Homo sapiens: one gene and its partners. The protein of the gene in region 1 purifies or fractionates together with the protein of each later gene. This does not show direct contact. Each region holds a gene or a part of one and is shown on either strand. Other genes may lie near its edges.

Region 1 (3,752 bases):
ATGTTGCCCAGGCTGGTCTCAAACTCCTAGCCTTAAGTAATCTGCCTGCCTCCACCTCCCAAAGTGCTGGGATAACAGGCCTGAGTCACCGCACCCAGCCTCACCACTGGCTTTTGAGCAGGAGAGTATCTTGGTAGTGAGCTTCAGGATCAGGAGTGCAGGGCTAAGTAACGGGCACTAACTTAGCCCCCAACTGAAGCAAGGCACAGTGAGGCTGGTACAGACCCAGGCTAGAGGGGCTATGGGGTAGGCAGGGCCTCCTCCTGAGCCCTAAGAATAGCCAGTTGGGCTCACATTCAGCATGAGGAAGGAGGAGGTTGGCATGGCAATCCTAGAGGTAGCTGGGTGACCTCGGAAAGGAAGAGCCTGGAGGTCAAGGTCTGGATCCTGATCAAAGAAAACCGAAGCGCAAAGAAGGGCCAAGGCTTGCCCAAGTCACCCAGAGGGAGTGTAGCCCAGGAGTCAGGACACAGGTGCACCGGTGTCCCTGCAAAACCTTCACCGTGCAGCTGGGGTGGGGACCTGGCTGCCCTCCAAGGAGCAGCTCCCTCCTGCTTCAGCAGAGGCCACTTGTACTACCTGCAAGCTGTATTTGGGCTGATGCGGGAAGGGCCCCAGTGAGGCAGAGAGCGGGGAGACCATGTTAGGACCTGTCTGGTTTCTCCCTTTTGCTGCCTCTCCATCTTTCCCCCAGGGCTGGAAGAGCACATTCCTGAGTCAGTTTTCCCAGGAGTCTGGATGGGGCCCAGGCAAGAGAGAGCACCGTCTCCCCATTACCAACACTCTCTCTCTATCCCCCACACACACCTCCTTGCTTTCCCTTAGAGCTCTTCAGAGGGTATGGCTGATGCAGGACAGGCCTATCCAGCTGCCTGGCTCAAGGAGAAGCTGGCCAGCTTTCCAGCCTCATGTTTTCTGGGCTCTGTGGCCAGGGAGGCCCCTCTCCACCATGCTCTGCCACTTGGCAACTCTGGGCCAGGCCCAGGTCCTCTCTGGGCTTCAGGTCCCTCATCTGTGAAATATGACGGCTTCATAGAGCACTTCCAGTGACTTTGCCAGCCTTACCTTTTGTAAGCCCCACACTGCCCTGCAAGATGGTACTGTCATTATCTCCATTTTACAGAGGGGAAACAGGTTCAGAGAGCATGAGTGGCTTGCCCCAAGTCACCCACCCAGTAAGTGGTGGGCTTGGTACTTGAACCCAGGCAGTCTGACCAAGCTGCTGCCTGAGGTCTTTGCCATCATCAATATGCCATCAATTGTCAGGTCAGGCAGGGATCATTTTCCCTTTTCTATAGATGGGAAAACTGAGGCCCAGAGGGGCAACATGTCTTGCCCAAAGGTGCAGAGCTCAGGTGGGTCTTGCGCACTGCATAAGGCCACGTTGCCATGTCCTTGAGCACCTCCACAGAGGAGCAGCCACCCCAGGAAGTAGCTGCAGACTCTACGGGGTGATACCCTCAAAGGGTGACCAGGGCATGACCGACAGCTCGAAGGAAGCAAAGAGGCTGCTGCTGGTGAAAGAAGAAGTGAAGTGAGAGTGTGGTGCCTGGGCCTGGGGTGAAGGGAGCAGAGAGAAGTGCAGTGGGGGTGCAGGTGTGGGGCAAAGGGAGAGGCCACCCACAGACGCCTCCCGACTTCCCCTTCTTCCTGCAGAAGCTACAAGACAGCAGCCGAGACAGCAGCTGAGACGGCAGCGGCAGCTTCTCAGGTCAGCCTCCTCCGGGCCTCTCCCCACTCTCCTCTGCCCAGTTCTCTGTCCTTATCCACAGGCCCCTCAGTGGGCACTGGCCATACCCATGTCCAGGTGGGCACAGACCTGGTGATATCCTGGTGAGCAAGCTGGGGACCCACCCTCCTTCCCTTTCTGGTTGGCAGCTCCACATCTGGGGCAATGTAGAGATCTGTGCTTTTGGAAGGAGGGGCAATTTAAATTAAGAAGTGGTTAGGCATGGGTCTCGAATCTTAGCTTCCCCGCGAGGTCTGGGACAAGTGAAGAGAGGTTTCTTTTCTGGACCTCAGTTTCTCATCTGTAAAATGGGGTGAGTCTGGGAACCTGCACCTTGGATGGCTGTCAGGGGCTCAGTAGAGGACCTGGCACACAGTTTGTGCTTGGCAATCTGGAGCAGGTGCAGCTCCTTTCAGAGTGACCTGGATTGGATCCTGGGGACAGCATGTCTCAGGTAAATGGACCTGCTGCTGGCTTGGTCACAGACTTCCTGTTGGGCTCCAGGGTGGCCTCTCTTTCCCAACCTGGGAAATAGGGTTACTATAGCATTTCTTAGGGCTTTTTTTTTTTTTTTTTTTTTTGAGACGGAGTCTTGCTTTGTTGCCCAGGCTGGAGTGCAGTGGTGCGATCTCGGCTCACTGCAACCTCCACCTCCCAGGTTCAAGCGATTCTCCTGCCTTAGCCTCCTGAGTAGCTGGGATTACAGGCACCAGCCAGCATGCCTGGCTAATTTTCGTAATTTTAGTAGAGGCGGGATTTCGCCACTTTGGTCAGGCTGGTCTCGGACTCCTGATCTCAGGTGATCCACCTGCCTTGGCCTCCCAAAGTGCTGGGATTACAGGCGTGAGCCACCGTTCCTGGCCTGTTAGTGCTTTTTTGCAGAGACCACAGGTTGATTGATTCCTCACCCAGGCCAGGGGCAGGGGCTCCAGACTGTGGTTGGCAGGGGCAGGTGGGGCTGTGTGCGGAGAATGGCTGGCTCAGTAGGCCTTCGTGCTGCTGGGGAGAGGTGGGCTTCGGGGGTGCATGGTCAGCTGTAGGGAGGAAGGCAGGGGTTCCCAAGCCTTGTGCTCAGATGTATTCCTGGCCAAGGACTTTGATCAGAGCCCTGGACCTTTCTCAGGGCCTGATTCCCAGGAGAGGATCAGGGAAATTGTTGTTTGAATTTCTCTTTCTGGGAAATAGATTTCCTTGGCCTCATTTTACAGATGAGAAAACCTGAGACACAGAGAGGTCAGGTGCCTGCCCAGTGTCACACAGCCTAGGCACTGAATACTGCAACTGGTTATCAAATTCTCATCTTCCAAAGGCTCTGTCCTGTGCTCCACAGCTCCTCATTTCTCTATTGGCCTAAATAGAGTCTTACTTGTCTGCAAAGCAACTCAGCTGCCCAACCATCTTTGGGAGGCTGCAGTGTGCAGGGGGTAGTGCCCTGGACCGTGGAGGCCTGGGTTTGAGTCCCAGCTTGCCCACTGGCCTGCTGTAGAACCTCAAGCAGACTCCTCTTACGCAGTATTCGGTTTCCCCACCATCAACTGGAACCATCCTGGAAGTCAGATAAGGGATTGCTGTTTCCTAGAAGGCCACAAATAATGAATTGCAGGGTGGAGAATGAAATGGCTCAGCGTGTGGGGGGATGGTGCATGGTGACCTCTCTGAAGGGATGTGGAGGGGAATTTGGAGGTTGCAAGCAGAAGTGAAGACTGTGGTTTGCTCCTGGGAAAGGGGGTGGAAACCACAGCTTCTATCTGGAGTGCCTGGGGGAGGTATCACTTCTGCTTTGGCCTCAATTTCTTCAGTTGTGTGGTAGGGTCAGGCTTTTCTTCCCTCAGTGCCTGCCTGGAACCAGTGGGGGTAAGAGCCTGGTCTTACACCTTGCAGGTCAAATCCATCTATCTCTCTGGGCCTCAGTTTCACCAACAGTATAGTGAAGGGGTGGACAAATTGGCCCAAGATCCTTTCTGTGCTGTCAGGTCCTCCACTACTGGGCCTGAGTTATCTCTCCTGAATGAGTTCCTTCAGT
Region 2 (2,565 bases), on another chromosome or scaffold:
TGAGACAAATTCTGAGGGCCCTTTTCAGCCCTCTATTGAGTTTACATTTCTATGCATTAACCAGGGACTCTGCTTTCTTGTTCTCCAAGGATCATTTATCTAAGGCCAAATTCACTAAAAACATCAGGATTGATCAGAAGGATTTCAGTGACAGCAGAGCTTTTTGCAATGAAATAATACTAAGCAATAGTACTTGTTTTATACCCCTTTCCAGTCGTGGAGCACCGACGGAAACCATCATTATAAAACAGTATTGTTTTTTATATTAGTAAGGATGAGGTTTTAAAAGACGTAATTGACATTAAACATGATTGAAGCCCTAATTTTGACCAAACGATATTTACTTCATGTTTTGAGAGATGATATTAACAGTAACAAGGATACTTGTACACAGCTTTCTTCCAAAAATGATCATGCGGCTAAGTTGCCAGGAGCAATAGTACCAAAAGATAGTTTGGGACAGAATGTGAAGATTTTCAAATTAAATATTAAAAATGTTTTCTCTTTCTGAATGGCTTAAAGTTCTTAATACATTAGATATTCTGTGGTAAAGAATCCATATCTGCAAGTTATTTAAAAGGTATTAGTACACAAGAGTATAGGTATATAAAACTAAATGAAGTCAATCATATTGATTATCCCCCCAAAAAAAATATAATCTAAAGAATAATCAGTTCCTAAATAATTGAAAGCTGCCCTTACAAAATAAAACAAAAGAACACACATTTCGTTGTGTTGCCCAGGCTGGTCTCGAACTCCTGGGCTCAAGCAGTCCTCCCACCTCGACCTCCCAAGATGCTGGGATTTCGGACATGAGCCACCACGCCCGGCCAAAGCTGCCTTTTTTTAACATGGATTTTTTTTTCCCCCATTCGTTGTGCTCAGAAGTCATTTCCTCTTATTTTTCTCTGCTAATGTGTGCTTTAACAAACCTGTTTAAAACGACAAGCCTTTAATCAACTGGGGTGTTTTGTTTTGTTTTTTTCTTATTTTCTTAGGAGTCAGTGGATCGGTGGGGAAAATGCTGCTTACCCTGGGCCCTGGGCTGTAGAAAGAAGACACCAAAGGCAAAGTACATGTATCTGGCGCAGGAGCTCTTGGTTGATCCAGAATGGCCACCAAAACCTCAGACAACCACAGAAGCTAAAGCTTTAGTTAAGGAGAATGGATCATGTCAAATCATCACCATAACATAGCAGTGAATCAGTCTCAGTGGTATTGCTGATAGCAGTATTCAGGAATATGTGATTTTAGGAGTTTCTGATCCTGTGTGTCAGAATGGCACTAGTTCAGTTTATGTCCCTTCTGATATAGTAGCTTATTTGACAGCTTTGCTCTTCCTTAAAATAAAAACAGAAAAATATATCGTCCTAACAGTTAAATTAACAATCAATCCATAAAGTCCTATATCTTCATTCAGCAACCCAAATATTACATACATTTCCAGAATTTTCTTGATTGTTACTTTCAGTGATATTCTTTATATTGGGTACAGGAGAAGTTTGGTGTTTGGTAGGTTTTTCAACATTAGTTTTTGAGACTAGTTTACCTCTTCACATTTATGCTCACAACCCTCTTGTTAGAAAAGTCTGTGTTTATATACAGGCTGTAAGTTTGTGATTGATAAAAAGAAGATGAGTGTTAATTAGCCTCCAGTGAAAATATACTGAAAGCCTGTTTTCATTTGATTCCAATGTTTCTTCCAAAGAATTCTGTATAAACATATGCCAATTCCCTATGATGGTCTAGAGTTAGGAATGAGTGTTTATGGTGTTGCTTATAGAACAACTCAGGTAATCTCCATTTCTGGTTTTATATTTTCTGTACAAACTGCCTGGGTTTTATTTTTCTAATCAGCAAGGTGCTTCACTGCCTTCTTGAGACGCCTCTCAAAGCTCTTAAATGGCTCCTGTGCTATGTGTGGTGTTGGCAGTCTAATTTGCTTCTGTTAAATGTTGTAGAACCTTTTTCACTAGGAAATAAGATTCATTTCTTTCGGCAGTAGATGTAGATTCATCTTTTAACGTTTCTTCAAATTTGTTTCTGTCAGGCTTTGTGTTATTTTAAATGGTTTTTTAAAATTTTCTTCTATGTTTTCAATTACCTAAAGACATAGGATAATAGTTTTTTTTAAGTTAGAATTTTACCTCATAAAATTTTTTGAGGTTTGATGTATGTCTCTGTCTTATCAATAATGAGGCTTAAAAAATACTGGATTTGAATGGCTGCCGTTTTTTCAAAGCAATATGAATTTGATGAGTTTGTTTTATGCCATTAGGTGGCGCCAGAGGTCAGAACATGTCTATTTTGAATTGGATCGTTACAAATGAGCATATTTGATGCGGAAATTTCTGGGAGAAAAAAAATTGAGGAAATAAAGTTAAAAAATTGACATTCATTGAGCCAAAAGAGATGTGGAGAAACATTTTTCACCTTTCTGTTTGGCCTGATTAACATTTAAATTCTTGCCAAAATTAAGGTAACTTTTAAAAAACACCTTTTATAGGTGGATCCAGCAGTCTGGCAACGCCCACAGTTACCACAACACAGAAAACTGATCGTGCT
Region 3 (3,752 bases), on another chromosome or scaffold:
CTACTTTTAGTGAGTTTCACAAGCTCAGGGGAGAGTGTTCAGTGAAAGGAAACAATCTCTTCTCATCTTTCTTCTCCCATCATTTTTTTCTCCTATCTTCAGAGTACTGTATTGTTGTCTCTTTATACTAAAAACAATTCTGTTTATTCAAAAAAAGTACCTCAAGAAGCAAGTATAGTGTTTCCCAGGTATTTTCTTAAAAGTAATTTCATCATGTCTTTTCATGTATATATTCATGTCTATTTTCCCACTTAAGATTGGTCCCAATGTTTTCTTTCTTTCAGAGAGAACATTAAAAATGTTAGGAAACTGAGGTGCAAGGATTGCTGGAGGCCAGGAGTTCGAAACCAGCCTGGGCAACATAGTGAGACACCCATCTCTACAAAAAAATTTAAGAATAAGCCCCACATGGTGGTGTGCTCCGCTTGTAGTTCTAGTTACTGAACTCCCACCTCGGCAACAGAGCGAGACCGTCTTAAAAAAAGTATGTGGAAGAAAAAACATGCACAGTAGATTTAGTGTTATTGTGATAACCCTAGCACTTCAGTGGAAAAAATATAAACAATTTCAATGAGTAGACAATAACACATATAACCAAGATTTCAAATATACCTTCTAGCCCTTTTGAGAAGTCAAAATTGAACAACCTGAATGTACCAGCTTTTTTGAAAAAAGTTTTGTAGACACGCGATCCCCAAAACCTGCCGTTCAAACAACTCCAAGGGTCTTTAAAGTACTAAATCCCTTTGTATTTGTCCTATCGGTCCCTTTGGTTTCCAGGAAAGCATTAAAAATAAAAATAAAAACTCTCTGCCTTAATTTTATTTCACGACTTTCTTTTCTCTTATTATAGCTTTCCACATTGCTTTAGAAGAGTTTACATCTAACTCTAGTGGTCTTCGGCTTCTTCTCCCTCTTTGACACAGAGGACTAGTTTCAATTGTACAAATAGGCTGGACGCTTCAGCGATTATCTTCCGACCACTCCCTGTGTGCTCGCGCGGGCGGAGTAGGGGGCGCTTCTCCACTCTCCGCGACCTCAATGTATGCGGAAATCCTCCTGCCTTTGTGCACACGTTTATTTAGAAAATTCTCTCCACCCCCACTCCCGTCCGTCCCGCCCCTTCTTCTTTTGCTTATTCTCTGAGTTTTGCCTCTCCTCCCACCCCGACTCCACCGTAATCTTAACCTACCCGTACAGATTCCACTTTCCCACTTCGGAGCTAGAGTAATTTAAGATCCCCCCATTATTAGCTCCACGTCGCCTTTAAAAGCCATTCAAACGAGTTCGCCTTCCAGGGTTCTGCAGTTGTGCTGCAGCAGCATTTCCCTCCTCTCCAGTATCAGACGTTAAAACAAAGCAAGCCACAGTGTGTGTCCACAGACGACCTTGGAACGAAAAGCTGCCCTGTTTGGGATCAATGCTCAGGGAACCCAGTCCACTCCCGCACTCACGTGTTCCCGCCTTGCCCTCCAGCTAGTTCCCCCGCGCGCAGGATCGCACTACTCCCTCTGCAGTCTCGCCTGCCGACTTCCTTCTGCGCGCCTCGTAAAACCGGGGAAGTTCAATCATTCCGCAGCGAGCCGCGGCGGCCGCACTGGGCATGCTCAGTCTCCGGGCTCCGCTCGGCAGGCGAGAGGCGTCCTCCGGCTCTGGGCTCCGGTCGGTGGGTGCCTCGGCTCGGCTTTCCCCGGCGCTGGCTGGGCTCAGCGGCCCCTGAGCCCAAGCGACACACGCCCCGCGGTCCCCGATCCGGCCCCTGGGAGAGCCGCGCCGTTCTGGAACCCGGGAGCCCCCAACTTCGCGCCAAGTTCGGAGCCGCCTTCTGAGGGAGACATGAAAAAGATGAGCAGGAATGTTTTGCTACAAATGGAGGAGGAGGAGGACGACGACGATGGGGATATCGGTGAGCGAGGGGTCCCCGCGTCCCCACCCGAGAGCCCGAGCCGACGCGGGAAGAAGTTCGGGGACTGCGCGGGGGCGCTGTGCTCTCCGCGGGGGAGGTTGGCCGAGACGCTCGGCCGCTCCGGGCAGGGGAGGAAGCCCGCTGTCCCCGGCTGCTTGCAGACTGAGGCCCCGGTGCGGCCCCTGCGGGGCTGAGGCGCGGGGCGCGTGGTGGCCCCGAGGACAGGCTCCTGACGGGCGGGGGATGCTGCCCCTGAAAAGCCTGGCAGCTGCGGGGACGCCTCTGCGTGCGGAAGTCTCCACTCAGAAGCAACTTTGGGGTCACTTCCCCGACTCGCAGAGTGCTAGGGTTGCCCAGGAGCCTCGGCACTGGGGCGAGCCCCCTGGGCGGGGTCCGGGGAGCAGGCCCGCATTTGGAGGACAGGGTGTGACCCATCTGAATCCTCGTTAAAGTAAAAGCCGACCGACGGCTCTGGGAGGTTTGAGGCCTGGCGGGGCGGCCCCGGGAAGTGATTTGTGGCCGCTAGGCGCGCGCTGGAAACCCTTTCCCATCTGCGGAGCCCACCGGAGCTGTGATCGGAGGAGGAATTCCCCCAGGCAGGGAGGACCGCAGGGCCTTTTTCACTCGTCCTGAGGGGCCCTGGGGCTTGGGGAGCAAACCTGGGGTGACCCATTTCTAGTTAGAGTTAAAAATGCATGGAAGTGACAAGACGAACGGAGGGAGAGCTGTTTTAAGAGCAAAAAAAGAAAAAAAGGGCAAACAAAAGGGATGAGAGGAGGTGAGGAAGGGGAAAGGAATGAGAGGACTAGAGAGAAAATCAGGTCCCTAAAGAGAACACTGTCGGGGGATGATGATATAATGTGTCCCTCCAGAAGACTCTAATTAAATTACCAAGCCAGTCTGTTGTGGCGACTCGGCTTAGTCTCCTGGATGCCAAATCAATTTTAAAGCAGAACATCCTGCTGATGTTCTAAAGCCCTGTTGTTATCTAATAACTTTAAAAGTAACTTAATTTTAGGAGTTGGGTGTGGTTTTTATTTCTGTTACATTTTGGGCACGGAATATTTCGATCAAAAAAATTTGGTAACTTCTTGGTTGTCCAGGGACAAATCGAATAGAGGAGATTACACTCCATGATTTAGTTTCACATTTCATTCATTCATTTAAGAACAATTTACTAGTTATTCATCTTTAAGGAGAGAGCAAATAGTAGTAGTTTTTATAGGAGAGAAAACTGAAGCGCACAGGTTGGTCTGCCCAGCTTCTCACACTTTCAAACCCAGGTTTTCTGACTTGTAAAACCAGTGAAGATTAATGCTCTTACCACTGGGTCACTCTGGCTGTTACTACTGTTTAGCAAGATTAAGTAGTACCTGATGATTACATAAAAATATAGGAGTGAAATTTAAAAAGTTACAATAAAATTGACACAGTCTGTTTCCCAGGAAAGTATTATTGTCTTTTATGGTGAGCTGCACTGTTTATAATGAGTATTGTAAGTAAATAAGGGCAGAAGCTCAAATGGAAACTGAAGTAAGCAAGAGGCTCTGAGCTTTGTTTTACTGTGCCAGCAGTAGATCTCAGTTTAGAAAGTAATTTGGTCTAGTCTGTGTTTACCTATTGAGGCATCGTATAAATTCATCTTAAGCGTGTGGCAGTAAGCTCTTTTTATTTTTAATGACATGTCATTCATGCTAGTTTTGTCCAGTCAAACAGTGTAGATAGACTTAAGAAAAAGTTAAATATCTCTACTCCTCCCCACCCTCTAGAAACTACTAATACTAATACTTTAGTGTTAATATTAGTAGGGCATTTCCCACTATTCCTGTGGGGCCCTGGGGTCTCT

The links.
Region 2: the proteins of ADGRG5 (region 1) and ATP13A3 purify together in Homo sapiens (co-immunoprecipitation; 3 studies listed by BioGRID and IntAct, with this or other methods). This does not show direct contact.
Region 3: the proteins of ADGRG5 (region 1) and ANO6 purify together in Homo sapiens (co-immunoprecipitation; 3 studies listed by BioGRID and IntAct, with this or other methods). This does not show direct contact.

What each region holds. Positions count from the first base shown.
Region 1 is NC_000016.10:57,540,991-57,544,742, forward strand, and holds the start of ADGRG5 (adhesion G-protein coupled receptor G5 isoform 1 precursor), read left to right. Parts: upstream 1-1,652; 5' UTR 1,653-1,656; coding exon of another isoform or gene 1,657-1,711; exon of another isoform or gene 1,712-2,067; coding exon of another isoform or gene 2,068-2,183; intron 2,184-3,752. UniProt on the Homo sapiens protein: Orphan adhesion G-protein coupled receptor (aGPCR). Ligand binding causes a conformation change that triggers signaling via guanine nucleotide-binding proteins (G proteins) and modulates the activity of downstream effectors, such as adenylate cyclase.
Region 2 is NC_000003.12:194,404,550-194,407,114, reverse strand, and holds part of ATP13A3 (polyamine-transporting ATPase 13A3), read left to right. Parts: intron 1-998; coding exon 999-1,196; 3' UTR 1,197-2,565. UniProt on the Homo sapiens protein: ATP-driven pump involved in endocytosis-dependent polyamine transport. Uses ATP as an energy source to transfer polyamine precursor putrescine from the endosomal compartment to the cytosol.
Region 3 is NC_000012.12:45,214,486-45,218,237, forward strand, and holds the start of ANO6 (anoctamin-6), read left to right. Parts: upstream 1-1,609; 5' UTR 1,610-1,836; coding exon 1,837-1,906; intron 1,907-3,752. UniProt on the Homo sapiens protein: Small-conductance calcium-activated nonselective cation (SCAN) channel which acts as a regulator of phospholipid scrambling in platelets and osteoblasts.